4 linked regions of the Homo sapiens genome follow. The gene in region 3 interacts genetically with the main gene of each other region. Each region holds a gene or a part of one and is shown on either strand. Other genes may lie near its edges. The genes, in order: PARP2, SEPTIN9, ATR and TERT.

What was found.
Region 1: changes in ATR (region 3) and PARP2 are lethal when combined (synthetic lethality), as found in Homo sapiens cells (one study listed by BioGRID).
Region 2: changes in ATR (region 3) and SEPTIN9 are lethal when combined (synthetic lethality), as found in Homo sapiens cells (one study listed by BioGRID).
Region 4: of ATR (region 3) and TERT, extra expression of one rescues a mutant of the other (dosage rescue), as found in Homo sapiens cells (one study listed by BioGRID).

Annotation. Positions count from the first base shown.
Region 1 is NC_000014.9:20,353,612-20,358,409, forward strand, and holds the end of PARP2 (poly [ADP-ribose] polymerase 2), read left to right. Parts: intron 1-473; coding exon 474-636; intron 637-1,197; coding exon 1,198-1,336; intron 1,337-2,140; coding exon 2,141-2,204; intron 2,205-2,285; coding exon 2,286-2,420; intron 2,421-2,695; coding exon 2,696-2,823; intron 2,824-2,978; coding exon 2,979-3,078; intron 3,079-3,439; coding exon 3,440-3,538; intron 3,539-3,784; coding exon 3,785-3,909; intron 3,910-4,026; coding exon 4,027-4,186; 3' UTR 4,187-4,293; downstream 4,294-4,798. UniProt on the Homo sapiens protein: Poly-ADP-ribosyltransferase that mediates poly-ADP-ribosylation of proteins and plays a key role in DNA repair.
Region 2 is NC_000017.11:77,277,191-77,284,507, forward strand, and holds the start of SEPTIN9 (septin-9), read left to right. Parts: upstream 1-4,308; 5' UTR 4,309-4,345; coding exon 4,346-4,364; intron 4,365-4,421; exon of another isoform or gene 4,422-4,707; intron 4,708-7,317.
Region 3 is NC_000003.12:142,554,706-142,561,733, reverse strand, and holds part of ATR (serine/threonine-protein kinase ATR), read left to right. Parts: intron 1-312; coding exon 313-491; intron 492-1,279; coding exon 1,280-1,471; intron 1,472-2,292; coding exon 2,293-2,483; intron 2,484-2,957; coding exon 2,958-3,110; intron 3,111-5,158; coding exon 5,159-5,351; intron 5,352-5,594; coding exon 5,595-5,857; intron 5,858-7,028. UniProt on the Homo sapiens protein: Serine/threonine protein kinase which activates checkpoint signaling upon genotoxic stresses such as ionizing radiation (IR), ultraviolet light (UV), or DNA replication stalling, thereby acting as a DNA damage sensor.
Region 4 is NC_000005.10:1,292,046-1,300,036, reverse strand, and holds the start of TERT (telomerase reverse transcriptase), read left to right. Parts: upstream 1-4,968; 5' UTR 4,969-5,047; coding exon 5,048-5,266; intron 5,267-5,370; coding exon 5,371-6,724; intron 6,725-7,991. UniProt on the Homo sapiens protein: Telomerase is a ribonucleoprotein enzyme essential for the replication of chromosome termini in most eukaryotes. Active in progenitor and cancer cells. Inactive, or very low activity, in normal somatic cells.

The sequences.
Region 1 (4,798 bases), on a different chromosome or scaffold from region 3:
AAATTTGTTTTCACTTCTGGATATATACCACCATAAAAAATTTAATTTAGATAAACTGAGGTATACCAGGATGCTGAAACTGTCCGGAAACAGTCACATATCCAAAAAAATGGAGAAGTTTTAGTCTTTTTTAAGATGGGAAGATCTGAGACATAATAGCTGTCTTTACACACTGACGTCATGAGGAAAGCCTTTTTTTTCTAGACTTATTCTGAGTTGTAAAATGTGGGAGGCAGAACTTGGATGGTCAACCCTCTATATCCATGGATTCAATGAACTGAGAATCAAAAATGTTTGAAAAATTGCTTCTGTACTGAACCTGTACAGCCTTTTTTTCCTTGCTTCTCATTATTCCCTAGACAGTGCAATATAAAAACTTTACAAAGCATTTACATTGTATAATATTGGGTGTTATAAGGAATCTAGAGATGATTTCTTAGATTGTCTTGTGTTTTGTTTGTTTTTTGCTATAGGATGAAGAGGAAACAAAGAAAGAGGAATCTCTTAAATCTCCCTTGAAGCCAGAGTCACAGCTAGATCTTCGGGTACAGGAGTTAATAAAGTTGATCTGTAATGTTCAGGCCATGGAAGAAATGATGATGGAAATGAAGTATAATACCAAGAAAGCCCCACTTGGTAGGACTTCACATTTTCTTCTGCATTCTCTCCTTATAATTCCTAGCTCCTTTAATGGATACTTTATTATCATTATGATTTAAAGCTTGCTCATAGTACTGAATGAAGAAAATGGGATTTGGGGTGACAGGTTGTATGGAGGGAAGAGGAACTATTTTGAAAGTTGAGGCTGGGTGTGATGGGTCATGCCTATAATCCCAACACTTTGGGAGGCCAAGGCAGGTGGATTGCTTGAGCCCAGGAGTTTGAAACCAGCCTGGGCAACATGGTGAGACCCCATCTCTACTAAAAATAGAAAAATTAGCCAGGCATGGTGGTGTGTGCCTGTGATCTAGCTACTTGCGAAGCTGAAGTGGGAGGATCACCGGAGCCCAGGAGGTTGAACTGCATTTAGCTGTGTTTGTGCCACGGCACTCAGCCTGGGCAACAGGAGTGAGACCCCATCTTAAAAACAGGAAAAAAAAAAGTTGAAAGATGAAAGTCTTTTTTAGGGAAGGATGTTAAGTACAGTTCACTAGATGGGATCCTAGTTTGGAGTCTGATCTCTGGGTGGGCCTGCAGGGAAGCTGACAGTGGCACAAATCAAGGCAGGTTACCAGTCTCTTAAGAAGATTGAGGATTGTATTCGGGCTGGCCAGCATGGACGAGCTCTCATGGAAGCATGCAATGAATTCTACACCAGGATTCCGCATGACTTTGGGTAAGGCCTGTGCTGTTACTTCACTTTGTTCTTCTACCTATACATATCCCCTGTATCCATCAGCAGCAGCTATAATCTTTTAAATCTTTTATTCCTAAGAAAATGATCGTCTTGAATAGGTACAGAAACAAAATGATATATAGGTAGCCTATTTAATCAGCTTACAAATATGGGATGCAATCTCCCGGCTTGACCACAGCCATATTCTCTGACAAAGTGGAAGTTACCAACCCAAGAGAGAATGGGTCTAGCTATCCAACCACCCAAGTAAAACACCTTCAGGCATATCACCCCCTTTTCCTATTTGAGTAACTAAAACCACACAAACACCATTTCTGTGAACTCAAGTGATATTAGATAGACAAAATAACATTTTACATTTGTTGATTCTGTTTTCTGGTTTACATCCGATTTCTATTTCTTTTATAGCTTTATAGAGCCCCGTGACCTAGAAATAACCCTGAGTGGTCAACAGGTCTACCTGTGCTTCTAGATAGAACTGTATCCAACTGTTCCCTGTTGATATCAATATAACTTATTTTTAAATGATTTTATAAAAAATAATTTTAACTCTAGTCTCAAAAGTCAAAATCCACATAGTTCATCTTATACCGAGTATATATTTAATATTATTTTATATATTTGGAAGTTAAGATCTCTTTACAGATCTCTTTCTCTCTCAAATGGAAAACCTGTTTCTCATACCTGTTTTCTAAAGGACCTATCTGTCATTTTCTATTTTTAGTCATGCGCCTTTTAGCCACATGTCAGAAAGCTCATTATGGGTTATATCTCTGTTCTTAGACTCCGTACTCCTCCACTAATCCGGACACAGAAGGAACTGTCAGAAAAAATACAATTACTAGAGGTGAGATATGTATGATTTGAGAAGTATTATATCCCTTATACCAGTGTCCTCCCACATTGATTCTATATCTCATCTTCTCAGGCTTTGGGAGACATTGAAATTGCTATTAAGCTGGTGAAAACAGAGCTACAAAGCCCAGAACACCCATTGGACCAACACTATAGAAACCTACATTGTGCCTTGCGCCCCCTTGACCATGAAAGTTATGAGTTCAAAGTAAGAAAAATGATCATTTATTTTCATATTCTTGCACCCTTAACCACCTCCCCCATCCCACTGTTCTCTAACTACTTCTTGTCAAGAGCAAATTGTCAATTAGGGCAGACTTTTTATGTACTAGGGATTTGGGAAGGCCAAGCTTTTCCTAGCTGCCTTGTAAGACTGTTTGGGAGCAGAAAGGTCTGCCAAGTTATATCAGAATCCCCAAATTCTTCAGTTCAGCTCAGTCTCTTGTAGAGTCTACATCAGCCTTTTTGTCTTATTTTTCACAGGTGATTTCCCAGTACCTACAATCTACCCATGCTCCCACACACAGCGACTATACCATGACCTTGCTGGATTTGTTTGAAGTGGAGAAGGATGGTGAGAAAGAAGCCTTCAGAGAGGACCTTCATAACAGGTCTGAGTCTAGCTTTGCGTTTGGAAAGACACTCCTTGCCCGAAAGTACAGCTGTAGAACTTATAAGAGGGAGTCAGAGGAAGGTGTTGGCTTTTTTATGCTTATGGCCTATCTGTGCAGAACAACAGAGTACAATAATATTGGCTTTTCCTTAGGATGCTTCTATGGCATGGTTCCAGGATGAGTAACTGGGTGGGAATCTTGAGCCATGGGCTTCGAATTGCCCCACCTGAAGCTCCCATCACAGGTTACATGGTGAGTGAAATTGAACTCTGGGAGGAGCACAGGGGAAAGGGATACAGTAATGTTCTCAGTGCTTTTTTTCCTAGATTAGGATTAGATGGTTCCCCTCCCCAAGAGTTAAGCCAGCTCACTGATAACCTTGTCATCTCTTACTGTGTCCCTCTTTCTTTAAATTCCTAAAGATACCTCACCTTTCCCTCAGAAGGCGGAAATTCACAGGGGCTTCTACCCTCTCTAGAACAGAATTGTGAGGGGAAATGGAGAAGGGTCTATATTGTGTTTAAGGGAATGGAAAAACAGGGTCAGTGGTATGCACCTTCTCTCTAACACAGTGGGTTAGAAGCTGACCTTGGTATTCATGTATATATTTCAGTTTGGGAAAGGAATCTACTTTGCTGACATGTCTTCCAAGAGTGCCAATTACTGCTTTGCCTCTCGCCTAAAGAATACAGGACTGCTGCTCTTATCAGAGGTGAGACAGGAGTATGTCTGTGATCTCTAGTTTATTAATTCCAGTTTTTTTCCGATGAGAAAAGTTTGACCCCAGAACCAAGAGGTTTACCTGGGATAGCTTGAGAGAGGACCAAGTACAATTTCTAGTACATTGGATTCCTCTGCTGGAGTAGGGGAAAAAAGTACTGATGGGATTTTCTGTTTGGCTTTGGAGCCATCTAATTCTTAGTAGGATATGGGAATTCAAAGGTTTTTTGCTTTGCAGGTAGCTCTAGGTCAGTGTAATGAACTACTAGAGGCCAATCCTAAGGCCGAAGGATTGCTTCAAGGTAAACATAGCACCAAGGGGCTGGGCAAGATGGCTCCCAGTTCTGCCCACTTCGTCACCCTGTAAGTACTCAGAACCAGGAGGACTAGAAGACTCCTTTTGGCCAGATAAGACTACGTTCTCTATTGCAGCTTCTGAACCAGAGACTGATGTTGACACACTTTTTTTCCATTTGGCAGGAATGGGAGTACAGTGCCATTAGGACCAGCAAGTGACACAGGAATTCTGAATCCAGATGGTTATACCCTCAACTACAATGAATATATTGTATATAACCCCAACCAGGTCCGTATGCGGTACCTTTTAAAGGTTCAGTTTAATTTCCTTCAGCTGTGGTGAATGTTGATATTAAATAAACCAGAGATCTGATCTTCAAGCAAGAAAATAAGCAGTGTTGTACTTGTGAATTTTGTGATATTTTATGTAATAAAAACTGTACAGGTCTACCACTGGCTTCTTCGGGCTTTATTTCTCCAAGAACATATTTCTTCTGACATTAGTAGATCTCCATTTCCAGGACAGAAATTACTCATTGCTCTGAGGGTTATTCAGTATCCTGTTCTTAGTGGCATCTGTGCATTGAGGGACACTAATGGGGGCGCTAATGCTTTTACCTGTTTAATTCAATTTTTCTGCAAACTGGAATTTGTTGAGTATTATCACAGGAAGGGTAGAGGCAACAAAGGCTAAGTCGTGTTTTTCTTTCCCATGCATATGTATTCACTTGCCTTTTTCAAATTTATCCACTGCAGCCTAGGTCTCCCACTACTCAACATCCTAGGACTCATCACATGTCCAAAAATTTGGGAAGCCCTTGGAGGACTGTCACTAAGCCTGAATACATCTTGAGGAGGAAAGGAAAAAAGTGGAATGAGTTTTTACATAACCTGCTCCAACTAAGAAGTACTAAAGTCCAGGTCAGATCCTGATATGGTTAGGCTTTGTGTCCCC
Region 2 (7,317 bases), on a different chromosome or scaffold from region 3:
GCCAGACTGGTCTTAAACTCCTGACCTCAGGTGATCCACCTGCCTTGGCCACCCAAAGTGCTGGGATTACAGGCCTGAGCCACTGCACCCGGCCTCTTTCTTTTTTCTTTTCTTTTTTTTTTTTTTTTTTAAAAGATGTGATCGTCGGGCATGGTGGCTCACGTCTGTAATCCCAGCACTCTGGGAGTCCGAGGCGGGTGGATCATGAGGTCAGGTGATCGAGACCATCCTGGCTAACACGGTGAAACCCCGTCTCTACTAAAAAAAAAAAAAAAAAAATGAGCCGGGCGTGGTGGCGGGCGCCTGTAGTCCCAGCTACTCGGGAGGCTGAGGCAGGAGAATGGCGTGAACCCGGGAGGCGGAGCTTGCAGTGAGCCGAGATCGCGCCACTGCACTCCAGCCTGGGCGACTGAGCAAGACTTCGTCTCAAAAAAAAAAAAAAAAAAAAAAAAAAAAGATGTGATCTCACTATGTTGCCCAGGGTGATCTTGACCTACTGGGCTCAAGTGATCCTCCTGCCTCAACTTCCCGAGTAGCAGGGTCATGCACTTTTGGGCCAGGATCATCTCTTAACCTTCCTGCAAGCCCTTGCCAACTTCCTCCAGGCTTCTGCCCACTGCCTGCGCCTAAAGCCAATGCCATGTGTTTCATATTTTAGTGACCAGAGCACAGTGAGGCACGTCAGACCCATTAGCTTTCTAATCACCACACCAGCTGTGTGAGTTGGGGGTTGGGTACTGCCCTCCCCTTTCATAGGAGTGGGCACTGAGAATTGGGGAAATTACACAACTGGTCATAAGCACTCAATTAGGAGGAGGAGGAGGAGGAGGAACAGAGTGTTTGAAAGACAATTTTTAAAAATTGGATAGCACAGTAGCCTGGGGACATTTGCGAAGGAGTAAGATGGCGGCGTGTGCGTTGATAACCGTTCAAGGTGCCATCGTGACGGTCCTGAGCCAGGAGGGAAAGAGTCATATGTTTGCTATGCTCTTCTCACCAAGGCAGGGGATTGTGTCATATGTTTTAGAGAGTTGTCTGTGAAAAACAATTAAAACTTGATGCTTAGGCCGGGTGTGGTGGCTCATGCCTGTAATCCCAGCACTTTGGGAGGCCAAGGCAGGCAGATCACTTGAGGTCAGGAGTTGGAGACCAGCCTGGCTAACGTGGTGAAACCCCATCTCTACTAAAAATACAAAAATTAATCGGGCCTGGTGGCAGCAGGCACCTGTAATCCCAGCTACTTGGGAGGCTGAGGCAGGAGAATCGCTTGAATGTGGGAGGCAGAGGTTGCAGTGAGCCAAGATCATGCCATTAAACTCCAACCTGGGTGACAAGAGCAAAACTCCATCTCAAAAAATAAAAATTAAATTAAAAAAATAAAAAAAAAATAGGCCAGGCGCAGTGGCTCACACCTGTAATCCCAGCACTTTGGGAGGCCTAGGCAGGTGGATCACCTTGAGGTCAGGAGTTGGAGACCAGGCTGGCCAACATGGCAAAACCCCGTCTCTACTAAAAATACAAAAATTAGCCGGTTGTGGTGGCGTGTGCCTGTAATCCCAGCTACTTGGGAGGCTGAGGCAAGAGAATTGCTTGAATCCGGGAGGTGGACGTTGTAGTGAGCTGAGATCATGCCACTGCACTCTAGCCTGGGTGACAGAGGGAGACTCTGTCTCATAAATAAATAAATAAACCAGGTGCGGTGGCTCACACCTGTAATCCCAGCACTTTGGGAGGCTGAGGCGGGGGGATCACCTCAGGTTAGGAGTTTGAGACCAGCCTGGCCAACATGGTGAAACCCTGTCTCTACTAAAAAAGAAAAAAATTACAAAAAAAAAAAAATTAGCCAGGTGTGGCGGGCACCTGTAATCTCAGCTACTCAAGAGGCTGAGGCTGGAGAATCACTTGAACCTGGGAGGCAGAGGTTGCAGTGAGCTGAGATCGCACCATTGCACTCCAGCCTCGGCGACGAGGGCAAAACTCCCTCTCAAAAAATAAAAAATAAAAATAAATAAATAAAAACAAAATTTGAGGCTTAAACAATTAAGCTTCGTGCATCTCTTTAATTTTTCTTTTTTTTTTTTAACTCTAATTTCATGACAGATTAAGCTTCATGCATCTCAAAAATGTGTAGAACCCTCATTCCCAGCCTTCCCTCCCTCTCTCTTGTCCTTCTTTCTGATTTCTTGGAATCGGAAGGAAAATTCGGATATCCAGGAACCATCACACAGGAGGCACCCATGTGATGTGTCCAACATCACTCCACGCAGGTGTCCTTGGGTCCTGGGTGCCCAGGTTCCTGTGAATTGTGACCCCAGGCAGAAGCGTGAGCATCCGCAGAGGAACCCACCTACCCAAAGCCAGGGAACAGCCAGGGCTGGCATCCTCAGGGTGACTGTGCTCCAGGGCACCTCTGACTTGTGCTGAGTAAAATGGACAAAGCCAGCAATGCACCCATAACCCAGATTCTTGAGACACCGCTGGACTTTGGGAATCCCAGGCATTAGGCTCGTGGCAGTGTCATCATGGCTAGGCTGGGGGCAGTGTCATCATGGTGCTTGCTGGCCAAGTCAGGACACGGCCTAAGCCGGAATCTGCTGGTGCTGGTACAAGCGGTGAGTGGGCGTGTGGGTGGGGGTTGCGGTTAGGGTGTGGACATCCCAGAATCCAGGACGCTGTTCACAATTCGTCCATACTCCCTGCTCCCCTCCCTTACAGCACTTCCCTCCCGAGGCCTCCTGAGCCTCTAACCCCCAGATAAGGAAAGGGGTGGACTCAGTTGAAGTCCAGTGTCCACTCCGGTCCAATCAGCTCTACCTGGGGTGAGGGGAAACTCCTCTGGCTGGGCTGCTCCCTCTGCAGGGCTGTGGCTGGACAGATTACTCAAGAAAGGAAGCAGGTGGGCCGGAACGAACCCACGGTGCCACATAGGCCTCCGTTCTCATGCATATAAGTTTCCCACACTCAGGCAGGAAATGAAAATGCTTCTTGGACCCCCAAGGAGAGTAAAGGAGAGGGGAAGAGGAGGAGGATTTTTCGGGGCTGTTAGTGACACTTTCAGCCTCCTGTGCATTTTTGGGAGGGCTGCAGGAGAAGGCAATGCTGCGCCCCTACCCAGAACTAGCGAGCGCTTCCCAACTGGCCTCCCGCCTTCCTCTCGTCCTCTACGGCCTCCATTGGCAGCTGTGCAAGGGCCCGGCCCTGCCTCTGTCTCTCCACACTCGCTGTGATACCTCAGGCCTCCCAGGCTCCGCCACGCCCTTCCCTCTTTCGGGAACAGCTGCCTTCCATCACCTTGGCTGCCTGGCTAATTCCTGCTCATTCCTTAAAACCCTGTTTTGATTTCGCCTCAATAAAACTCTGACACCACCCTCCAGTCATAATTAGTCACTTCTTCCTCTGTACGTTGGAAACACCGCTTTATCGTGGAGACTTTAAGGATATCCAAGTAGAGAGAATTCTTCCGTGCAAGTTTTGCATCCTCTCACCACTGCCTGCGTTACCCGAGTTGTAAAGGGCGGCTCCCTGTGTCTGCCCCGCTGCACCGATACACCGAGCTGCGCACGGTGCCCAGCGCAGGGAGAACAAATGATCATCTGTCCAACGCGCCCATTTACAGGTGAGGAAACTAAGGCTCCAACTCAATCGACGCACTCTGCCCTTTTGATTACCAGAAAAGTAGCAGGACAGGTGTCCTGTCCCGCCCTACCCCGGCCCACTAAGCCGGCACCCCGGCTCCGACCCCCGGCTGTGCCCGGCGCCGCCGCGGTGCCCGGCGCCGCCGCCTCGCCCGGCGGGGCCGCCCGGAGCGCCCGCACCTCCGCCCGCTTCCACCTGGCCGGGCCCGCCCCGCCCGGACTCGGGACTGGGAAGTGCGGCGACTCCCGGAACCAGCCATTGGCGCCAGCGCGGGGAGCTGGGGGTGCAGAGCTGCGGGCGCGGCGGGCCACGCAGGCGGCCCCCACCCCCGGCCTGGCCTGGTCTGGTCTGGTCTGCGCTGCCGCGCGGGGGCGCCCCCTCCCAGGCCCGGCGCCCGCCAGCCCCGCTCCGCCAGGTGCAGCGCAGCGCAGGGGTGGGCGGGGGTGGGGCTCGGCGCGCACGTTCACGGGGCGGGGAGGGGGCGGGTCAGGGGCGGGACCACAGCCGGCTGGGCCGGGGTTCTATGCGCATCTCCGGGGAGGGGCGGGGCGGGGGCGGGGCCGGGGCGGGGCCCGGTCGGTGCACTCCAGACGGCGGGCCGCCCCCTCTTCCCGCCTTCCTACTACCGGCCCAGGATTAGCGCCCTGGGAGCGCGCGCCCCGCTGCCTCGCCGCCACACTTTCCTGGGAGCGGCGGCCACGGAGGCACCATGAAGAAGTCTTACTCAGGTGGGCTTCGCGCCCGGGGTGGGGAGGGGTCGGTGTCCCGGGACCAGCGCTGCTCACCTGAGTGCCTGCGGCCGGGAGTGGCGAGGCGCCCCCGGAGCTGAGCGAGTCCCCGCGGCGGGCACACTGCAGGTCGAGTTCCTCCCAGGACAGGGCCGCTGTCGGGCCGCTTTCGACCTGAGCCGACCGTCCCCTGCGCTGTCTCCAGCCCTTGCTCGAGTGTCGGAGGGGCTGCCCTGGGGGACGCTCCCTCTTCCTCGCCCCTTGCACCCTCGCAGGAATCGCTGACTTTCCAGGTCGGCCGGGTGCTTTGGGTCCCTGTGCGTCTGTGTGGGTGAATGGGGTCGGGGCTAGGTGGAGGGGTGTCCTTGGGTTCAGCCTCTAGGGCTGGTGGTCCAGGCCGCAGCATCCTTTCTTCGGATTCTCTTCGGTTTCTCCTCTACTTAGTGGGGCACGGGACGGCCTCCAGATGGGACCGTCCAGCAGCGCCCAAACTTGGCGACTCGGGTTCACGTTTTGCGCTCAGGACGCCGCCCGCGGCTGACATCCTCACTCCACCCTAGCAGGGCCCGCCTTAAGTAGGCGAAGGGGGCCTGACTTGGGCCTCACCATGAGCCGGTTCAGGAGCTTTCATTTCATAAGAGGCTCCCGCTCTGGCACTCTGAAGTTCCATTTCACAGATGGGCACACCGAGGCCACAAGGGCAGGTTAAGAGAAATCCAGATCTTCATTATTTGTCTTTTCCTTCCTTTTTTTTTTCCTTTGTGGTTTTCTCCAAAGGATCCAGGCAGGCAGGATCCTTTGTCCTCCTCAGTCCTCAAATTATAAATAGCGTCTCCTCTTCTAAATCTAGAAACCGTTTGTTTAATGTCCCTCCTTTAATTCATTCAGATAGAAAGGTACCTGCCAAGGATCCATGAATTAATTTTTATTGATAGGAGAACAGAATCATGGGCCTTAGTTGGAGGTGAAGGAGTCATCGGGGCCATCCCCCTGCCTTTGGGCCATTGTCGGTTTCCTCTGGCTTTCCATATTTAGGAACCAAAATGAGTGATAAAGTACCTTGTCTCAAAGAGGATTACTCAGAACTTCCCCGAAAATACCCTTCTGGGTCAGTAGCTTAGAATTTCAACTTTCACCCGGTTGTTGCGAACAAGATGGCCCTCTACGCACCCGGAGCACAGCTCTGTCAGGAGCGTGGGTGGGTTGGTGTGCTGGTGGGCGGGAGCGGGCTTCCAGGTGGCACATGCTTGGTTTTGGCACCGGGGCTTCCTCCCCAACATGCTCCAAATACTTGAGATTGTTGTGGGGATCGCGCGGTGCATGGCCCTTTCCAGGGGATCTCTAGCCCGCCCAGGGAGGGCCCTTTGCCCTTGGTTTCTTACACTTTACCTCCCACTGGTGGGTCCAGACAGTGGGGGTGACCGGGGTCCTCCCAGGTCGTGGGTCCTGGGTTTTTTCTGCGGAGACCCTCCTGCACAGATGCCGGAAGGGCCCTGAGGCAGGCTTGGAGTCTCTGCACCTGCGGCTTACTGGGAGGTGGGGAGACCATCACTTGTCCTTTTCTCCTCTCCTCCACACACACCTACCCCACCCCTCACTGGGTTTCTTTTTTTTTTTTTTTTTTAAAAAAAAGGACAGAACCTTTTGCAGTAGGTGGAAGTAGAGTTTGTGGAGTGAGCAGGAACCAACTCTTGTACAGCAGCCTCGGTGCCTCCTTGTGTTTACCTAAAGGGGCAGGCCCCTCTGAGGATGGGGGAAGGGAGGGCTCAGACCATTTCTGGTTTGCTCCCTGCTTGGCAGTGGCCCAAGGTGTGCTGGGTCACTGTGTTGCAGTTGTATGGAGTGGGACTGGAGGGGGCTGATGGTGGGGGTGGCCTCTTGCCCTCATTCTGAGTGTCCTGGAGCTGTCTTGGCACCAGCCCTTTTCCGGGTACGGGCACTCGCAGGAGTCAGGCTGACCCCCCAACAAGCCATCGACACCATGAAATTAAGGAAAGCAGCAAAAGATGTTAAAAATCCCCCAAGGCTCTGACAATCCAAGGACAACAGGAAGGTCTTTATTTTTTCATCTAGACTGTGCGGGATTATTGCTTCCAGACCTGTATGTGGGCTTCAGAATAAACGGAATGACCATAATGTTGTTCCCGGTAGACCTGGTTTGAACATTCGTGAGCCTCTGAAAAGGAGAAAGATTTTAGAAGGATGTGTTGGGGCAATCTCAAGTACCGTGGGTCTATAGACAGTCATCGAAGACACTTTATGTGCTGGGCACACATGGCCAAGTCTGAGTGGGTACAGAAATGGTAATGAGATATAGTCCTTGCCTGCAGAGAACTTACATTCTCACCGGGAGTCAGGATGAGGGCGAGACACCAGCTCATTAACACCCTTCCCTCCTGAGCAGTTCAGCCTCCAAATACTACAGGAATGCCCCGGAGGTTTTAGGTGGAGGTGAGATTGAGCTGGGCCTTGAGGAAGGAGAAGTCTTGAGTAGTGGAGAATAAAAAGGGACTTGGCCAGGTGCGCTTGAAGTCCCAGCTACTCAGGAGGCTGAGACACGAGGATCGCTTGAGCCCAGGAGGCTACTCAGGAGGCTGAGACACGAGGATCGCTTGAGCCCAGGAGGCTACTCAGGAGGCTGAGACAGGAGGATCGCTTGAAGCCAGGAGTTCAAGGCTGCAGCCCTGTGACAGCGCCTGGAAATAGACACGGCACTCCAGCCTGGGTGGCGTCATGAGACCCCATCTGTAAGAAGGTCTTTTCCAATGCGGAAGGCAGCAAGGGCCCACACAGGGCAGCTGCAGGATCCAGGGGGACACTGGGGACAGGTTCTCTCTGGCAGCTCCACTGCTGCTCCAGGCTTTCCCGATTGCCTCACCCGGCCTTCCAATGGGGTGGAGGTAGTGGTAGTCTACAGGCAGTGTGGTCCAGTGGTTACACTTGGGGGCTCAGA
Region 3 (7,028 bases):
AAGTTACATGAAGAAAGTTGGTAATTCCCTTACAGAATTTTTTATAAGGGAATTAAAATTTATAGCATTTTGGTAAGAGGAAAAACAGGATGTAGAGAGAAGGATTTGTTTAAACCTTCTAAGACTATAGAACCATAGTCTATATATAGACTTAAATAATATAGATCAATTTAGATGTTTATTTTGCTTTATGAGACTCTAAAAGTAGTTTCACTAGAAAACACCTAACATCTAATACATTCTTGCTGCCTATGAATAATATAAATATATTTTCTAAGGAATATTTCTGGAAATTATTTTTTATTTTCTCAGTACTTGTTGGGCCCACTTTATGCAGCTTTGAAAATGGAAAGTATGGAAATCATTGAGGAGATTCAATGCCAAACTCAACAGGAAAACCTCAGCAGTAATAGTGATGGAATATCACCCAAAAGGCGTCGTCTCAGCTCGTCTCTAAACCCTTCTAAAAGAGCACCAAAACAGACTGAGGAGTATGATGACCTTCATTCAGTTTGTATTTAGCCATTAAATAAAACTTTGTTCACTTTTAAAAATCAGCTTTAGTTAAGTGCTTTGATTTAAATACACAAAGAACATCTTTCTAAATGTAGCCAAGGGAGTGCTTAAAATATTTTTATAATTATTGTAGACGGTTAGTAGTATAAAACATTTCATGGTTAAATATAGTTACTTTGCATGTTTTTATATGCTTATCTAATTTAACTTTTTAATATGTGAAAAATCTTTGAGACTGTGCATCTATTAGCAATTTTTAAAACATTAACCAACTATTTTTTATAAAGTGGCTAAGTTGCCATATTTCAGTTACTTCTGAACATTGTTTTAATTGTTTTAAATCTTAGTATAAATTTCAGGCTGGGCGCGGTGGCTCACGCCTGTAATCCCAGCACTTTGGGAGGCCGAGGCGGGCAGATCACGAGGTCAGAAGATCGAGATCATCCTGGCTAACACGGTGAAACCCTGTCTCTACTAAAAATACAAAAAATTAGCCAAGCGTGGTGGTTGGCGCCTGTAGTCCCAGCTACTCGGGAGGCTGAGGCAGGAGAATGGCGTGAACCCGGGAGGCGGAGCTTGCAGTGAGCCGAGATGGCGCCACTGCACTCCAGCCTGGGAGACAGAGTGAGACTCTGTCTCACAAAAAAAAAAAATTTTTTTGAATAGTTGATATTACATAGTATGTTTTATTCTAAATATGTTTCATGTTTTAACCAAATTTATATTGCATATGAATATCTCTCTACTATATTCATAATTATAGAATTAAACATGTGGACATGAACCAAAAGAGCATATTATGGAGTGCACTGAAACAGAAAGCTGAATCCCTTCAGATTTCCCTTGAATACAGTGGCCTAAAGAATCCTGTTATTGAGATGTTAGAAGGAATTGCTGTTGTCTTACAACTGACTGCTCTGTGTACTGTTCATTGTTCTCATCAAAACATGAACTGGTAAAACAAACTTCTTGTTTCTTGGGGTTGGGTTTCCTGTAATGAACTTGGATTTACTGTTTACTCATTATTCACTTGACTCATGTAACCTTAGAACACAAACTTTTCACTGAAGTAGTTAATAAATTTATTTTCTATTGAGTCAAATGCTAGGTACGGTGCTAAGCACTGTATATATCTTAGTTAATATTTACAATAGTCCTGTAAGGTAAAGGCTATTATGCCTATTTTAAAAATTAGAAACTGACACTCAGAGAAACTGAGGCTCTTTTTTGTCTGAAGCCAAAACTGACTTTCCTGGGGACACATGATTAGAAAGTACCAGAACACATTTGTGTACAACTCAAAACCCAGTGTTTGGCTGTTGAAGACAGGGTCTCGCTTTGTCTCCCAGGCTGGTGCACAGTGGCATGATCATGGCTCACTACAGCCTTGATCTCTATCCGGGGCTCAAGTGAGCCTCCCATGTAGCTGGAACTATAGGCATGTGCCGCCACACCCTAATTTAGAAAAAATTTTTTTTGTAGAGATGGGTTTCCCTATATTGGCCCGGCTGGTCTCAAACTCCTGGGCTCAAGTGATCCTCCCACCTCAGGCTCCCAAAGTCATTTGGTTCCCAAATCCTAAGGGTGATTTAAGCTGACATAAATAGATTCAACTTAAAATAGTAATAACATATTACTTGATTTGCATGTTTACTTTAAATTGTTATAGATAAATTTCGTACTCACAATTTCTTTTGGCTTTACTACAATTTTATGTTTGACTATAACAAAATTCATCTTAATTCCAATGTTTTTAACAAAATGTACTTACTGCAGCCGTACTTTCAAGGACTGTCAACATAAATCCAAGAAGAAACCTTCTGTAGTGATAACTTGGATGTCATTGGATTTTTACACAAAAGTGCTTAAGAGCTGTAGAAGTTTGTTAGAATCTGTTCAGAAACTGGACCTGGAGGCAACCATTGATAAGGTGGTGAAAATTTATGATGCTTTGATTTATATGCAAGGTGAGTACAAATTAGCAACAGATCAGAATAACCTTTAAAGATAATCAGTATAGAAATATGCTTTCTTTTTTGCCTGAAGCCTAAGTGCGTGTTTGGAATACTCAGAAGTTTTTTCCTGATTTCAGTTCTATTAAATTTGTCAATAATAGAAGTTCTGAGTTGCCAATTTATGTGCATAATATTTTGATTCTTTAGTCAATAGAAATTATTTATAACTTCAAAGTTTTTTAATTTGGGAGTTTGAGGAATGCCGTGATTCTTCTTTAAAACAGGCATAGATAACATGTTTTTATAAAGTCACATTTAATTTCTTTGGGTTCACAGACCTCAGACCATCGTTTATAGATCTCTGTGTTAAGAATTTCTGCTTATCCAATGATCATTATGATAGTATTTCAAATGTCTTTATTTTTATTTAAAAGAGATATGATTAAGGAAAAGTTATAATTAATGACTTATTTTGTGCTTCTGTAGTAAACAGTTCATTTGAAGATCATATCCTGGAAGATTTATGTGGTATGCTCTCACTTCCATGGATTTATTCCCATTCTGATGATGGCTGTTTAAAGTTGACCACATTTGCCGCTAATCTTCTAACATTAAGCTGTAGGATTTCAGATAGCTATTGTAAGTGCTCACAAGAATGTGTGTGTGGTTTGTTTTATTTATCTATCTATCTATCTATCTATCTATTTATTTATTTATTTATTTATTTATTTATTTATTTTTGAGACGGAGTCTTACTCTGTCGCCCATGCTGGAGTGCAGTGGCGCAATCTCGGCTTGCTGCAACCTCCGTCTTCAGGTTCAAGCAATTTTCCTGCCTCAGCCTCCTGAGTAGCTAGGATTACAGGTGCGCACCACCATACCCAGCTAATTCTTATATTTTTAGTAGAGGCGGGGTTTCACCATGTTAGCCAGGCTGGTCTCGAACTCCTGACCTCAAGTGATCCACCTGCCCCAGCCTTCTAAAGTGCTAGGATTACAGGCGTGAGCCACCATGCCTGGCCTTGTGTGGTTTGTTTTAACTCATCTCTATATAGGACTTCTAAGACTTATTTATATTTTTTTCAATAATTAAAAGAGCAGGTACATTTTTAATAGTTCAGAAGGGGGTTAGATACATAAAAAGTAACACATAAAAGCCTGCCCCACATATCCCATTTCCTTTCTTTTTGTAAAACATTTGCAATGTGTCCTTACATATCATTATCTTCATTTAATAAAATTAGGAAGTATTTGAGAAATATTTTAAAAAGAAGAACAATATACCAAAAATTCTTATACCAACTTCTCAGTTTAAGAAATAGAAACATTAGGCCAGGCACGGTGGCTCACGCCTGTAATCCCAGCACTTTGGGAGGCCAAGGCATGCGGATCTCTTGAGGTCAGGAGCTTGAGACCAGCCTGGCCAACATGGCAAAACCTCATCTCTTCTAAAAATACAAAAATTAGCCAGGCATGGTGGCTCACGCCTGTAGTCCCAGCTACTAGGGAGGCTGAGATACAAGAATCTCTTGAACCCAGGAGGCAGAGGTTTCAGTGAGCCAAGATTGCACCCCTGCACTCCAGCCTGGGCTATTAGAGATATGATGGAAGCCTTTGTCCCTCTATGATTTCATTCCCCTCATTTTTTTCCCCAGAGATTACTACTGTTCTGAATTTGGTGTTGATTGTTCTGTTGAATGTTCTATTACTTTTACTATATATGTATTTATTTATAAATAATATAAGAAATTGTTTTGCTTCTTACAGCTTACATTTTGTTGATCAACACTATCTTTATGAGACTTATCCATGGTGATATGGGTAACTCTAGTTTTTATTTAAACTTCCAAATAGTAGCCAAATTTGGATGGACACTATCAGACCTCCTATTGGTGGACAATCAAGTTGTTTCCAACTTTTCACAATTACAAGCAACATTTAAATGAATATTTTTATAAATGATTCTTTAGTCATTCTAAGTCCTTGCTGTTTGAAAAGTATGCTCCACAGACCAGTAGCATCGCCACCATTTAGGGACTTGTTAGAAATGGAGCGTCTTTGATTCTGCTGAAAGAGCACATTAAAAAAAAAGAGAGAGAAAGAAAGAAATGGGGAATCTTATGCTCCACCCAGACCTACTGATCAGAATCTGCATTTTAACAAGATAGGTGATTCATATCCATATTAAAGTTTGAGAAGCATTATTTTAACGTTTTTACCTACCTAGGAGTAGTATTGTTGGGTTATAGAGTTTGCACATCTTCACCTCTATTCTGCTGTATTGTTCTCCAAAGATACACCAGTTTACACTCCTGTTAGCAGAGTATGAGTTCCACATCCTCACTGACACTTAGCTGACTTTAAAATTTTTGCTATCTAGAAAATAAAAAATGTCATGGAGTTAAGTATCTTAAATTTTTTCTTTTTCCTATCTGGTAGGTATGATTTTCAATTTGCATTTCCTTGATTATTTAGTAAGGTTGTGTATAGACCTTTTTCAGTGCACTTGCTTTATTTTCTGAAAAGGAGCTTTTAATTAAATTAGGTATTAAATGTATTTTAAGTGTTACTTGACTTTTATTTATATATATGTATACACAAATGTTACTTTACTTATATATATGTATATGTGTATACATAAAATTAACATTAGTAGAAATCTTGTTTAATAGACTTAATTTTTTCAGCACCACAGGCACAATCACGATGTGTGTTTCTTCTGACTCTGTTTCCAAGAAGAATATTCCTTGAGTGGAGAACAGCAGTTTACAACTGGGCCCTGCAGAGCTCCCATGAAGTAATCCGGGCTAGTTGTGTTAGTGGATTTTTTATCTTATTGCAGCAGCAGAATTCTTGTAACAGAGTTCCCAAGATTCTTATGTATGTACTAAGATTTTAATTTGAATATATCACTCTATTGGAAAGATCATAATTGTCTGGCTATGTATGCAGGGTTGTGTTTATTGTTGAATATGTAAAGCAAATGTTGCTTTTAGTTTTAGAATTTAACATTTTTTCCTTCTAGGCTTTGTTTTACCAGTACTTTTGTCCCAAATTAAGCAAGACTATTTAGACCACAAAATTAGGCAAGAAAGTTTAGTACTTTTTCTTTTTTTTCCCCAGAGATAAAGTCAAAGATGATTCTGACATTGTCAAGAAAGAATTTGCTTCTATACTTGGTCAACTTGTCTGTACTCTTCACGGCATGTTTTATCTGACAAGTTCTTTAACAGAACCTTTCTCTGAACACGGACATGTGGACCTCTTCTGTAGGAACTTGAAAGCCACTTCTCAACATGAATGTTCATCTTCTCAACTAAAAGCTTCTGTCTGCAAGCCATTCCTTTTCCTACTGAAAAAAAAAATACCTAGTCCAGTAAAACTTGGTGAGTGATTATGACTTATTTAATACTTTAAAACCTATTTAAGCTCTGCTTTTCAAATCAGTAAAAGAATTAGACTGAAGCCTTGAAAAATTACAGGAAGTTACATGCTTTATAGATTCAGTGCTCAGTATTGATTAGTTATAAATGGGATAACTGGTATTAGATCGCATCACAAAACTGGTAGGAGAGGTGATTTTGGGATTTTTCGAATACTCTTGTGATTTGACAGCCTAAATGGGGCATACCTGATGGTTGTTTCAATATTGTAAGATTCAATATTAGATTATCTTCTTTAGTGATACCAGAGATCGTCTTAATGTGCCCCCTGTTACAACCTTGGACCTTGAGAACTTCAAATAGTTAAATTACTTTGCCCAACTGAGGACTATAGAGTGTATCTTCTTGGCCACTTTCCAGTGGTAATGGAGTATAAATTTTTATGAAGTATGAGATTTATACAAATACTTAGAAGATCCATTTGTTTAGGTAGTAAGTTGAAACTTGTTCTGAAGTTTCAATAGAAACTTTCTATTGAAAGCAATAGAAAGTACTCCCTAAATCTTGTAATGTAAGGTTAACAATAAAGCTAAGATCCCCTTGAGAAATGTGCTTTTCTTTTTTTCTTTTTTTTTTTTTCCCCGAGACGGAGTTTTGCTCTTGTTGCCCAGGCTGAAGTACAATGGCGCCATCTTGGCTCACTGCAACCTCTGCCTCCTGGGTTCAGACGATTCTCCTGCCCCAGCCTCCGGAGTAGCTGGGATTACAGGCGTGTGCCACCAGGCCTGGCAAATTTTTGCATTTTTAGTAGAGACAGGGTTTCACCATGTTGGTCAGGCTAGTCTCCAACTCCTGACCTCAGGTAATCTACCCACTCTGTCCCCCCAAAGTGCTGGGGTTACAGGCATGAGCCACCATGCCCGGCCTTTCTTCTTTCTTTTTTTTTTTTTAAGAGACAGGGTCTTGCTCTGTCACCCAGGCTAGAGTGCAGTGGCGCAATCATGGCTCACTGCAGTCTGCATCCTTGATCTCCCAGGCTCAAGTGATCCTCCCACCTCAGCCTCTTGAGTAGCTGGAACCATAGTATGTGCCACTACACCCAGCTAATTTTTAAATTTTTTGTAGAGAGGGATCTCACTTTGTTGCCCAGGCTGGTCTTTGAACTCCTAGCTTC
Region 4 (7,991 bases), on a different chromosome or scaffold from region 3:
GCAGGAAATGGCCATGTAAATTACACGACTCTGCTGATGGGGACCGTTCCTTCCATCATTATTCATCTTCACCCCCAAGGATTGAATGATTCCAGCAACTTCTTCGGGTGTGACAAGCCATGACAACACTCAGTACAAACACCACTCTTTTACTAGGCCCACAGAGCACGGCCCACACCCCTGATATATTAAGAGTCCAGGAGAGATGAGGCTGCTTTCAGCCACCAGGCTGGGGTGACAACAGCGGCTGAACAGTCTGTTCCTCTAGACTAGTAGACCCTGGCAGGCACTCCCCCAGATTCTAGGGCCTGGTTGCTGCTTCCCGAGGGCGCCATCTGCCCTGGAGACTCAGCCTGGGGTGCCACACTGAGGCCAGCCCTGTCTCCACACCCTCCACCTCCAGGCCTCAGCTTCTCCAGCAGCTTCCTAAACCCTGGGTGGGCCGTGTTCCAGCGCTACTGTCTCACCTGTCCCACTGTGTCTTGTCTCAGCGACGTAGCTCGCACGGTTCCTCCTCACATGGGGTGTCTGTCTCCTTCCCCAACACTCACATGCGTTGAAGGGAGGAGATTCTGCGCCTCCCAGACTGGCTCCTCTGAGCCTGAACCTGGCTCGTGGCCCCCGATGCAGGTTCCTGGCGTCCGGCTGCACGCTGACCTCCATTTCCAGGCGCTCCCCGTCTCCTGTCATCTGCCGGGGCCTGCCGGTGTGTTCTTCTGTTTCTGTGCTCCTTTCCACGTCCAGCTGCGTGTGTCTCTGCCCGCTAGGGTCTGGGGGTTTTTATAGGCATAGGACGGGGGCGTGGTGGGCCAGGGCGCTCTTGGGAAATGCAACATTTGGGTGTGAAAGTAGGAGTGCCTGTCCTCACCTAGGTCCACGGGCACAGGCCTGGGGATGGAGCCCCCGCCAGGGACCCGCCCTTCTCTGCCCAGCACTTTTCTGCCCCCCTCCCTCTGGAACACAGAGTGGCAGTTTCCACAAGCACTAAGCATCCTCTTCCCAAAAGACCCAGCATTGGCACCCCTGGACATTTGCCCCACAGCCCTGGGAATTCACGTGACTACGCACATCATGTACACACTCCCGTCCACGACCGACCCCCGCTGTTTTATTTTAATAGCTACAAAGCAGGGAAATCCCTGCTAAAATGTCCTTTAACAAACTGGTTAAACAAACGGGTCCATCCGCACGGTGGACAGTTCCTCACAGTGAAGAGGAACATGCCGTTTATAAAGCCTGCAGGCATCTCAAGGGAATTACGCTGAGTCAAAACTGCCACCTCCATGGGATACGTACGCAACATGCTCAAAAAGAAAGAATTTCACCCCATGGCAGGGGAGTGGTTAGGGGGGTTAAGGACGGTGGGGGCGGCAGCTGGGGGCTACTGCACGCACCTTTTACTAAAGCCAGTTTCCTGGTTCTGATGGTATTGGCTCAGTTATGGGAGACTAACCATAGGGGAGTGGGGATGGGGGAACCCGGAGGCTGTGCCATCTTTGCCATGCCCGAGTGTCCTGGGCAGGATAATGCTCTAGAGATGCCCACGTCCTGATTCCCCCAAACCTGTGGACAGAACCCGCCCGGCCCCAGGGCCTTTGCAGGTGTGATCTCCGTGAGGACCCTGAGGTCTGGGATCCTTCGGGACTACCTGCAGGCCCGAAAAGTAATCCAGGGGTTCTGGGAAGAGGCGGGCAGGAGGGTCAGAGGGGGGCAGCCTCAGGACGATGGAGGCAGTCAGTCTGAGGCTGAAAAGGGAGGGAGGGCCTCGAGCCCAGGCCTGCAAGCGCCTCCAGAAGCTGGAAAAAGCGGGGAAGGGACCCTCCACGGAGCCTGCAGCAGGAAGGCACGGCTGGCCCTTAGCCCACCAGGGCCCATCGTGGACCTCCGGCCTCCGTGCCATAGGAGGGCACTCGCGCTGCCCTTCTAGCATGAAGTGTGTGGGGATTTGCAGAAGCAACAGGAAACCCATGCACTGTGAATCTAGGATTATTTCAAAACAAAGGTTTACAGAAACATCCAAGGACAGGGCTGAAGTGCCTCCGGGCAAGGGCAGGGCAGGCACGAGTGATTTTATTTAGCTATTTTATTTTATTTACTTACTTTCTGAGACAGAGTTATGCTCTTGTTGCCCAGGCTGGAGTGCAGCGGCATGATCTTGGCTCACTGCAACCTCCGTCTCCTGGGTTCAAGCAATTCTCGTGCCTCAGCCTCCCAAGTAGCTGGGATTTCAGGCATGCACCACCACACCCGGCTAATTTTGTATTTTTAGTAGAGATGGGCTTTCACCATGTTGGTCAGGCTGATCTCAAAATCCTGACCTCAGGTGATCCGCCCACCTCAGCCTCCCAAAGTGCTGGGATTACAGGCATGAGCCACTGCACCTGGCCTATTTAACCATTTTAAAACTTCCCTGGGCTCAAGTCACACCCACTGGTAAGGAGTTCATGGAGTTCAATTTCCCCTTTACTCAGGAGTTACCCTCCTTTGATATTTTCTGTAATTCTTCGTAGACTGGGGATACACCGTCTCTTGACATATTCACAGTTTCTGTGACCACCTGTTATCCCATGGGACCCACTGCAGGGGCAGCTGGGAGGCTGCAGGCTTCAGGTCCCAGTGGGGTTGCCATCTGCCAGTAGAAACCTGATGTAGAATCAGGGCGCGAGTGTGGACACTGTCCTGAATCTCAATGTCTCAGTGTGTGCTGAAACATGTAGAAATTAAAGTCCATCCCTCCTACTCTACTGGGATTGAGCCCCTTCCCTATCCCCCCCCAGGGGCAGAGGAGTTCCTCTCACTCCTGTGGAGGAAGGAATGATACTTTGTTATTTTTCACTGCTGGTACTGAATCCACTGTTTCATTTGTTGGTTTGTTTGTTTTGTTTTGAGAGGCAGTTTCACTCTTGTTGCTCAGGCTGGAGGGAGTGCAATGGCGCGATCTTGGCTTACTGCAGCCTCTGCCTCCCAGGTTCAAGTGATTCTCCTGCTTCCGCCTCCCATTTGGCTGGGATTACAGGCACCCGCCACCATGCCCAGCTAATTTTTTGTATTTTTAGTAGAGACGGGGGTGGGGGTGGGGTTCACCATGTTGGCCAGGCTGGTCTCGAACTTCTGACCTCAGATGATCCACCTGCCTCTGCCTCCTAAAGTGCTGGGATTACAGGTGTGAGCCACCATGCCCAGCTCAGAATTTACTCTGTTTAGAAACATCTGGGTCTGAGGTAGGAAGCTCACCCCACTCAAGTGTTGTGGTGTTTTAAGCCAATGATAGAATTTTTTTATTGTTGTTAGAACACTCTTGATGTTTTACACTGTGATGACTAAGACATCATCAGCTTTTCAAAGACACACTAACTGCACCCATAATACTGGGGTGTCTTCTGGGTATCAGCGATCTTCATTGAATGCCGGGAGGCGTTTCCTCGCCATGCACATGGTGTTAATTACTCCAGCATAATCTTCTGCTTCCATTTCTTCTCTTCCCTCTTTTAAAATTGTGTTTTCTATGTTGGCTTCTCTGCAGAGAACCAGTGTAAGCTACAACTTAACTTTTGTTGGAACAAATTTTCCAAACCGCCCCTTTGCCCTAGTGGCAGAGACAATTCACAAACACAGCCCTTTAAAAAGGCTTAGGGATCACTAAGGGGATTTCTAGAAGAGCGACCTGTAATCCTAAGTATTTACAAGACGAGGCTAACCTCCAGCGAGCGTGACAGCCCAGGGAGGGTGCGAGGCCTGTTCAAATGCTAGCTCCATAAATAAAGCAATTTCCTCCGGCAGTTTCTGAAAGTAGGAAAGGTTACATTTAAGGTTGCGTTTGTTAGCATTTCAGTGTTTGCCGACCTCAGCTACAGCATCCCTGCAAGGCCTCGGGAGACCCAGAAGTTTCTCGCCCCTTAGATCCAAACTTGAGCAACCCGGAGTCTGGATTCCTGGGAAGTCCTCAGCTGTCCTGCGGTTGTGCCGGGGCCCCAGGTCTGGAGGGGACCAGTGGCCGTGTGGCTTCTACTGCTGGGCTGGAAGTCGGGCCTCCTAGCTCTGCAGTCCGAGGCTTGGAGCCAGGTGCCTGGACCCCGAGGTTGCCCTCCACCCTGTGCGGGCGGGATGTGACCAGATGTTGGCCTCATCTGCCAGACAGAGTGCCGGGGCCCAGGGTCAAGGCCGTTGTGGCTGGTGTGAGGCGCCCGGTGCGCGGCCAGCAGGAGCGCCTGGCTCCATTTCCCACCCTTTCTCGACGGGACCGCCCCGGTGGGTGATTAACAGATTTGGGGTGGTTTGCTCATGGTGGGGACCCCTCGCCGCCTGAGAACCTGCAAAGAGAAATGACGGGCCTGTGTCAAGGAGCCCAAGTCGCGGGGAAGTGTTGCAGGGAGGCACTCCGGGAGGTCCCGCGTGCCCGTCCAGGGAGCAATGCGTCCTCGGGTTCGTCCCCAGCCGCGTCTACGCGCCTCCGTCCTCCCCTTCACGTCCGGCATTCGTGGTGCCCGGAGCCCGACGCCCCGCGTCCGGACCTGGAGGCAGCCCTGGGTCTCCGGATCAGGCCAGCGGCCAAAGGGTCGCCGCACGCACCTGTTCCCAGGGCCTCCACATCATGGCCCCTCCCTCGGGTTACCCCACAGCCTAGGCCGATTCGACCTCTCTCCGCTGGGGCCCTCGCTGGCGTCCCTGCACCCTGGGAGCGCGAGCGGCGCGCGGGCGGGGAAGCGCGGCCCAGACCCCCGGGTCCGCCCGGAGCAGCTGCGCTGTCGGGGCCAGGCCGGGCTCCCAGTGGATTCGCGGGCACAGACGCCCAGGACCGCGCTTCCCACGTGGCGGAGGGACTGGGGACCCGGGCACCCGTCCTGCCCCTTCACCTTCCAGCTCCGCCTCCTCCGCGCGGACCCCGCCCCGTCCCGACCCCTCCCGGGTCCCCGGCCCAGCCCCCTCCGGGCCCTCCCAGCCCCTCCCCTTCCTTTCCGCGGCCCCGCCCTCTCCTCGCGGCGCGAGTTTCAGGCAGCGCTGCGTCCTGCTGCGCACGTGGGAAGCCCTGGCCCCGGCCACCCCCGCGATGCCGCGCGCTCCCCGCTGCCGAGCCGTGCGCTCCCTGCTGCGCAGCCACTACCGCGAGGTGCTGCCGCTGGCCACGTTCGTGCGGCGCCTGGGGCCCCAGGGCTGGCGGCTGGTGCAGCGCGGGGACCCGGCGGCTTTCCGCGCGCTGGTGGCCCAGTGCCTGGTGTGCGTGCCCTGGGACGCACGGCCGCCCCCCGCCGCCCCCTCCTTCCGCCAGGTGGGCCTCCCCGGGGTCGGCGTCCGGCTGGGGTTGAGGGCGGCCGGGGGGAACCAGCGACATGCGGAGAGCAGCGCAGGCGACTCAGGGCGCTTCCCCCGCAGGTGTCCTGCCTGAAGGAGCTGGTGGCCCGAGTGCTGCAGAGGCTGTGCGAGCGCGGCGCGAAGAACGTGCTGGCCTTCGGCTTCGCGCTGCTGGACGGGGCCCGCGGGGGCCCCCCCGAGGCCTTCACCACCAGCGTGCGCAGCTACCTGCCCAACACGGTGACCGACGCACTGCGGGGGAGCGGGGCGTGGGGGCTGCTGCTGCGCCGCGTGGGCGACGACGTGCTGGTTCACCTGCTGGCACGCTGCGCGCTCTTTGTGCTGGTGGCTCCCAGCTGCGCCTACCAGGTGTGCGGGCCGCCGCTGTACCAGCTCGGCGCTGCCACTCAGGCCCGGCCCCCGCCACACGCTAGTGGACCCCGAAGGCGTCTGGGATGCGAACGGGCCTGGAACCATAGCGTCAGGGAGGCCGGGGTCCCCCTGGGCCTGCCAGCCCCGGGTGCGAGGAGGCGCGGGGGCAGTGCCAGCCGAAGTCTGCCGTTGCCCAAGAGGCCCAGGCGTGGCGCTGCCCCTGAGCCGGAGCGGACGCCCGTTGGGCAGGGGTCCTGGGCCCACCCGGGCAGGACGCGTGGACCGAGTGACCGTGGTTTCTGTGTGGTGTCACCTGCCAGACCCGCCGAAGAAGCCACCTCTTTGGAGGGTGCGCTCTCTGGCACGCGCCACTCCCACCCATCCGTGGGCCGCCAGCACCACGCGGGCCCCCCATCCACATCGCGGCCACCACGTCCCTGGGACACGCCTTGTCCCCCGGTGTACGCCGAGACCAAGCACTTCCTCTACTCCTCAGGCGACAAGGAGCAGCTGCGGCCCTCCTTCCTACTCAGCTCTCTGAGGCCCAGCCTGACTGGCGCTCGGAGGCTCGTGGAGACCATCTTTCTGGGTTCCAGGCCCTGGATGCCAGGGACTCCCCGCAGGTTGCCCCGCCTGCCCCAGCGCTACTGGCAAATGCGGCCCCTGTTTCTGGAGCTGCTTGGGAACCACGCGCAGTGCCCCTACGGGGTGCTCCTCAAGACGCACTGCCCGCTGCGAGCTGCGGTCACCCCAGCAGCCGGTGTCTGTGCCCGGGAGAAGCCCCAGGGCTCTGTGGCGGCCCCCGAGGAGGAGGACACAGACCCCCGTCGCCTGGTGCAGCTGCTCCGCCAGCACAGCAGCCCCTGGCAGGTGTACGGCTTCGTGCGGGCCTGCCTGCGCCGGCTGGTGCCCCCAGGCCTCTGGGGCTCCAGGCACAACGAACGCCGCTTCCTCAGGAACACCAAGAAGTTCATCTCCCTGGGGAAGCATGCCAAGCTCTCGCTGCAGGAGCTGACGTGGAAGATGAGCGTGCGGGACTGCGCTTGGCTGCGCAGGAGCCCAGGTGAGGAGGTGGTGGCCGTCGAGGGCCCAGGCCCCAGAGCTGAATGCAGTAGGGGCTCAGAAAAGGGGGCAGGCAGAGCCCTGGTCCTCCTGTCTCCATCGTCACGTGGGCACACGTGGCTTTTCGCTCAGGACGTCGAGTGGACACGGTGATCTCTGCCTCTGCTCTCCCTCCTGTCCAGTTTGCATAAACTTACGAGGTTCACCTTCACGTTTTGATGGACACGCGGTTTCCAGGCGCCGAGGCCAGAGCAGTGAACAGAGGAGGCTGGGCGCGGCAGTGGAGCCGGGTTGCCGGCAATGGGGAGAAGTGTCTGGAAGCACAGACGCTCTGGCGAGGGTGCCTGCAGGTTACCTATAATCCTCTTCGCAATTTCAAGGGTGGGAATGAGAGGTGGGGACGAGAACCCCCTCTTCCTGGGGGTGGGAGGTAAGGGTTTTGCAGGTGCACGTGGTCAGCCAATATGCAGGTTTGTGTTTAAGATTTAATTGTGTGTTGACGGCCAGGTGCGGTGGCTCACGCCGGTAATCCCAGCACTTTGGGAAGCTGAGGCAGGTGGATCACCTGAGGTCAGGAGTTTGAGACCAGCCTGACCAACATGGTGAAACCCTATCTGTACTAAAAATACAAAAATTAGCTGGGCATGGTGGTGTGTGCCTGTAATCCCAGCTACTTGGGAGGCTGAGGCAGGAGAATCACTTGAACCCAGGAGGCGGAGGCTGCAGTGAGCTGAGATTGTGCCATTGTACTCCAGCCTGGGCGACAAGAGTGAAACTCTGTCTTTAAAAAAAAAAAGTGTTCGTTGATTGTGCCAGGACAGGGTAGAGGGAGGGAGATAAGACTGTTCTCCAGCACAGATCCTGGTCCCATCTTTAGGTATGAAGAGGGCCACATGGGAGCAGAGGACAGCAGATGGCTCCACCTGCTGAGGAAGGGACAGTGTTTGTGGGTGTTCAGGGGATGGTGCTGCTGGGCCCTGCCGTGTCCCCACCCTGTTTTTCTGGATTTGATGTTGAGGAACCTCCGCTCCAGCCCCCTTTTGGCTCCCAGTGCTCCCAGGCCCTACCGTGGCAGCTAGAAGAAGTCCCGATTTCACCCCCTCCCCACAAACTCCCAAGACATGTAAGACTTCCGGCCATGCAGACAAGGAGGGTGACCTTCTTGGGGCTCTTTTTTTTCTTTTTTTCTTTTTATGGTGGCAAAAGTCATATAACATGAGATTGGCACTCCTAACACCGTTTTCTGTGTACAGTGCAGAATTGCTAAC